Linked DNA regions of Homo sapiens: region 1 is linked to region 2. Evidence: fine-mapped QTL for protein levels in blood plasma. Region 2 holds a variant in brackets. A gene starts in the other region. All regions are shown on their reverse strands.

Region 1 (2,896 bases), not on the chromosome of region 2:
AGGAGGTGACTGCCCCACAGCCTGCTCTGATGCTGTGCTGCTGAGTCTAGAAGGGAAAGAGCAAAGCAGACGCTGGGATGGGAGTCACAGGAAGGGGAAGGGCCACAAGGAGCCAGTGGGGAATGTGCAGTGTTACCTGGCAAAGCTCAGAGAAGCACTTCCCAGAAAGACCCCGGAGTCCACATGTTTCCTTGTAAATATGTTTTGTGTTCCAACTGCAATCTGCCTCCAGAAAGAATCTGCCTGCCTCCCAAGGATCAAGTAGAATTTTCCATTTTGTAGGAGACTCCCCTTGTTGAGCAAAGCAGCTTTGCCTTGCCTATGTCCAAATAATCCTCCAAAATACCGCATGAGAGAGCCTGTTCGTGGAGGTCAGGGCCTCAGCGGGGTGTTTGTGAGGATAGTGAGGACGGACCCCTGGGTGAGGCAATTTTAGGAGAGAGGCACACAGCTTCAGAAATGGCTTCTTCCAACAGATTCATGCAGAGACTGAGCCTCTGAGTAAATTGGTCAACATCTATAGCTATGACCACGGAATTCTCAAACAGGTGGATCGTTCATAAAATCCAAACACAGTTACAAGTTTTGGCCTGCATAGTGTTGAGCTACAGCTTTATTTTTAGAAAATTTTAATTAGCTGCCAACCAATTTCATATAAACACATCTGGATTTGGGGATGTCATTTTAAAAATCAGACAGTGTGACAATACTGAGCCTAATCCCTGCATTTTCTCAGTCAATTGGAGATGAGTGTTGACCTCTATGGAGGCAGAGACTCTCTAGTTTGCCACAGTCCCCATCACTCCCTATTGCCTTATCTCAAACCCAAAAGTCAGTTGCCATTTAATATCACACTAAACAATAGTTTTCTTATGGCTGAATTAAGGAAAAGTGAACAATTTCTTCTTCTGAAAATCTATGAAAGGTGAGGTGATAATATATAATGAGGGCCACATCTTCCCTGTAGAAGTGAGTTTCTTTTTAAATGCTGCATATGTAAATAACAAATGTCTGTTTTCAAAGTATACAACTTAAGACCCTGTCATGAGGCAAAACGATTCTGCTCCACTTTATGTTAACAGCTTAGCCCAGTAAAAATTTAGTATGCAGCTATAAAGGAGACGTTGTTATTGTCAGCACACTGCAAATGGATGATGGGAGAGGCTAAGTGGTTTGGGCATAGCACTCAGCTAAACACATGCTGTGGCCAGGATTCCACCTGGGTCATTCTGGTGTGGGACTGTGCCTGTAGCAGGCAGGGCAGCCTGAGCTCTCTGAATGAGACCTGAAGGTAAGTATTTACAACAGTAATCTTATATTAAAAATTCCCTCTTTACCAGCCTCTCAGAGCCTGGTAGAATTCCCTGATAAAAAAGAGGGAATTTTTAATGTAAATTTCCCTGCCTCTAGAATTAGGGTATCCTCTGCTTATGTAGTAACTTCAGATGGAAAAAGGAACTCAGACACTACGAAAACTTCGGCAACTTCAGTCACCCATTCAACAAAGATTTATTGAGAGTGGCAGGCAGGAAGAGATCAGACCATGGATGTAGAGAATCTCACTTTTAATTTTGAGATGTTCCTTTTCCTGCCTCTGTGAACTTGGACAAGCTCTTACATATCTCCAGAACCAATTCCTGCTTTTGTAAAAGGGGAGGAATCATTGCACTCCCTACTAGAGCGGATGTGATGAGGGAAAAGGAGAACTCAGGTAAAATGGGCTCAGTAGTTTGGCAGCTCGGATCATGTCATTATAGTTATTTTACTCCTCCATAGACATCACTGCTGGGGTCCTCTCCCCATCAAGGAGGGTCACTGTGAGGCTGAGTTGTCCTCCTATCCTGGCCACAGGGTGGACAGGGAAGGGCCTAGAGGAAGCGTTTGATGGCATGCAGGTAACCCCCCTTTTCACTGGATTACATCCAGCACTTTCCCTGCAGGAACCGGCTCCCTCGGAGGGGCGTGGCTGGGAGGAGCTGTGAGTAACGTGCCACAGTGTTGTAAAAACCCAGTGAGTGTTATAAAAACCCAGTCAGCCTGGCTCCTGTTGAATAGTCTACCCCCCTTGCACTCTACCTGACACAGCTGCAGCCTGCAATTCACTCGCACTGCCTGGGATTGCACTGGATCCGTGTGCTCAGAACAAGGTAAGAGCCTCGCTCCTTTAACAGCTTTATTACCTGCTGCCACTTCTCACTCCACCAAGGGCCTGGAGTTCCTTGGGCCTGCATTCCATCATGGGCAGGTGGGGGCTGAGCCCCAGGGCCGTGAGAAATGACTGGGTGTTTTTCTGGCATATCCAGTCTCCTCTTCACCATTTATTGCTGTTCTCTGCCCTTTTGTGATTGTCTTTCTCCTTCTTAACCCTAGAAGATGGCCAACTTCTAGGGTAGAAATCAGATCAGGACCATTTCCTGGGTCTGCCTCTTTTTATAAAAAATTCTGTGTTTTGTTTTAAATGGAGCACAAATAATACAAATCATCTTATCATTATGTGTTATATGAAACTAAATTGTCATTGTTCATAGTTGTTTTTCTTATTCTTTGGCAATGTTTTTAAAGGGCAGAGTAAATGTGAAAAGCAAAAAGTGATCAACCAGGGGTGACAGAAAGGAATAAGGAGATTGATCTGGCTACCCATACCAGCTTTGAACTTGCCCACTATGAGATCCTGAGCAATTTACTTACCTGTCTGAGCCTTAAGAGTCAGAGCTGTCACCTGGGATGACATATTAATAGCTACCTGGAAGAGCTCTTGTGTGGATTTCACAAGGTGGGAATCAAACCCTAGACCAGTACTTAGCACACAGGAGGTGTCATATAGAAACTGACTTCTCTTCTTCTGTTAAGCATGGGTTTTTATTGTACACATGATCAGATTCATGCAGTTCAGTGT
Region 2 (2,839 bases):
TCTTCATCTGCACTATGGGTGTAAGCACCCTGGCCTCACTAGATGGTTGGAAGCTGGGCTTTGGGATCCAGGAACAATACCTGGGTATAGCCCCTTCCTGATGGAGAGATTCCTGTCTCATGAGGCACACATGATGCCTGCTGTGTCCCCCCAGGTGGCCAGGGATGGAGGTGGCCACAGACATACACCCTGGGCCACTCTCTGCCACTCTAGGGACCATAGTTCTTTCAAATCCAGAGCATCAGCCCTGCCCTGTGTGGCTCTCAAGGCCTGTTCCCGCTGCGTCTCCCCCAGTTATCAGACCAGGAGGGTTGCTGCAAGGCCAGGCCCATGCTTGGAGTCCTAGGAAGCGGGGAGCCCTGGGGCTCTGTCCCCTGAGTATGCCGAGAGCCTTTCTAAGAACCAGGACTTGGCAGGGGAGCACCCCAGGTGGCACTCCCTTTCCCAGAAGCCTTGGGAACTCCCAGGGTGGTAGCTTCAGAGCCCCAGCCCTTCCTTCACCCAGCCCTGGCAGAGGCCCATGGCCCCCTGCCAGCCTGATGGAGGTGGATGTGGCAGCCACCGCTGTGGTAAGGGTGAGAAGGGTGGGTTCTAAGGGACTCCTCCAAGCTCCTGAACCCTTTTCCTTCCCTTCAAGGAGATGTGAAAGCCCCAGCCTGGTCCCCATCCCACAGCTTAGGGCTTTGGCTCCCATAGTCCCAATCTAGGCAGGGCTGGCAGCAGGTGACTGGATGGTGCTGAGAAGGCAGGCAGAATGGGGGCGTGGGCCCTGGCAAGTGCACTCCTCAGCCAATCAGCGTCCTGCCCGGCTGGTGGATTCGGTTACAAGCCCAAGATCACCCCATACTCCAGCCTCTTTCCTCCTCCTCCCGCAGCTCCATTCATTGGTCCCGCCGCACCGGGCCTGCTGGGCTCCGCTTCCGTTCCACTGCTCAGCTGCCGCCTGGTGGGGCCACCAAGGGCAGGCATCCCAGGGGCTTTGTCTGACTGGACTGGGCCAGTGCAGAATGGGGGTTCAGGCAGGGCTGTTTGGGATGCTGGGCTTCCTGGGGGTGGCCCTGGGGGGCTCCCCTGCCCTCCGCTGGTACAGGACCTCCTGCCACTTGACCAAGGCCGTCCCTGGCAACCCACTGGGGTACCTGAGCTTCCTGGCCAAGGATGCTCAGGGACTGGCCCTGATCCATGCCCGCTGGGATGCGCATAGGAGGCTGCAGTCATGTAGCTGGGAGGATGAGCCGGAGCTCACCGCAGCCTACGGTGCTCTCTGTGCTCATGAGACTGCCTGGGGCTCCTTCATCCACACCCCCGGACCCGAGCTGCAGAGAGCACTGGCCACTCTTCAGAGTCAGTGGGAGGCATGCCGAGCGCTTGAGGAGAGTCCAGCAGGGGCCAGGAAGAAGCGAGCAGCAGGGCAGAGTGGAGTCCCTGGTGGAGGGCACCAGCGAGAGAAGAGAGGATGGACCATGCCTGGCACA[C/G]TGTGGTGTGGAGTTGGAGATTCTGCTGGGAACTCCTCGGAGCTGGGTGAGCCATGAGGGGTGTGTGGGCTGGGGGGTCCGATCGGGGAAGCAAGGTTTCTTCAGCCCCAGCCCTTACTCTCCTAGGCTGTGTGTCCCTGGGGGAGTGACTTGACCATGGTGAACCTCAATTTCCTTATCTGTAAAGTGGGGGCAATCACGAATCTCATCATGGGGTGCTTAAATGAGGTCACGGTTGGGGAAAGTCTTATTCAAACCTGGGAGTCCTCATTAAATGCCATCCGAGGGACTGGGCAGGCTGGGGGAGGATCCAGGGTCAACTGAGCCAAAAAGCCATTACCCAGGAGGAGGCTTTGTGGGCACGGGGTGCCCAGTGGAATGGATGCTGAGACGAAAGGCCTGGGTTCAAATCCCAACTCAGCACATACAAGCTGAGCAAGTCACTTCCCCTCTCTGGACTTATTTCCTCACCTGTAAAATGAAGGTGATACCTCCCTTTCAGGGCTGGCTGTGAACCTGGATGTGGGAAGTGCCAGGCATGTGGGAAATGCTTAGTAAAGAGTGCTATTTTTTAGATGGTAATAAACATAGATGAATTTCTTGCACTATCAGTACAGATGTCTGTGCGTTTGTGTGCAGGGTTGGGGGAGGGCTTGGCACCTGAGTCAGAGTAGGTTGGCATCCTGGCGACACCTCCTTGTGCCAGTGAGAAAGGTTGCACCCTGCCTGTTTGCCATTCCATCATACACACATTCATAATTTTGGAGTTTTATTTGGGGCGTGGGCTTGGGAACTCTGGAGGCAGACTCCAATTCCCCTGAGGAAGACCTTTCCATGTATTTATGGGTGGGCTACCTGGCATTTAGAGTTGCCCAACAGAGGCTGCAGCTTGGCTTCTCTTTTCCAGCTTTGAAACTCTGAGAGTCCCACAGAAGGGAGAGTGACTGGTCTGAGGACCCTCATGGCGTTTGTGTCAGGGCTGGGGTGAGAACCAGGTCTCTGCCCTCTTCCTACCAGGGGGGCATAGCTGGTGCATGATGCCTAGGACCCTGCTGAGTTGGTGCCCTCTCCCCTCCCCTCCCTGCAGGGGTCTTCCAGGGACCTGATCTCTGTTGCCGGGAACATGACCGCTGCCCACAGAACATCTCACCCTTGCAGTACAACTATGGCATCCGAAACTACCGATTCCACACCATCTCCCACTGTGACTGTGACACCAGGTTGGTGGCAGGCAGCGAGGGCCCAGAGCTCAGGGACAGGGCAGAGTTACCCAGTTCCTGGGTAACTAGACATTGGGATTGCAGAGGATCTTAAAGCTCAGCCAGCTTGGACCCCACAGTGCAGGTAGGAAAGCTGAGGCCAGA

Direction of the effects. Positions count from the first base shown, and alleles are read on the strand shown. Strength reflects both the effect of a copy and how common the allele is.
For the plasma level of the protein whose gene starts at base 1,658 in region 1, allele G in region 2 goes with a higher level than allele C (weak association).

What was found. A credible set is the group of variants that fine-mapping cannot tell apart. PIP is the posterior inclusion probability: the model's chance that the variant is causal. The UK Biobank Pharma Proteomics Project read protein levels with antibody pairs (Olink). The fine-mapping took linkage between variants from a reference panel, not from the people measured, so its PIPs are less certain.
Region 1: FGFBP1 starts here. The variant in region 2 is the best candidate, but not a certain one, in a credible set for the plasma level of the FGFBP1 protein (UK Biobank, PIP 0.75).

The regions. Positions count from the first base shown.
Region 1 is chr4:15,937,502-15,940,397 of GRCh38, reverse strand. FGFBP1 (fibroblast growth factor binding protein 1) reads left to right here and starts at 1,658. Exons shown (of 3, transcript NM_005130.5): 1 at 1,658-1,711; 2 at 1,927-2,147.
Region 2 is chr22:31,138,523-31,141,361 of GRCh38, reverse strand. It overlaps PLA2G3 (phospholipase A2 group III), which reads left to right and starts at 854. Exons shown (of 7, transcript NM_015715.5): 1 at 854-1,521; 2 at 2,563-2,695. The coding sequence starts at 1,008. RefSeq lists enhancers at 232-791, 792-1,350. The variant C/G (reference allele first, on the strand shown) is at 1,476.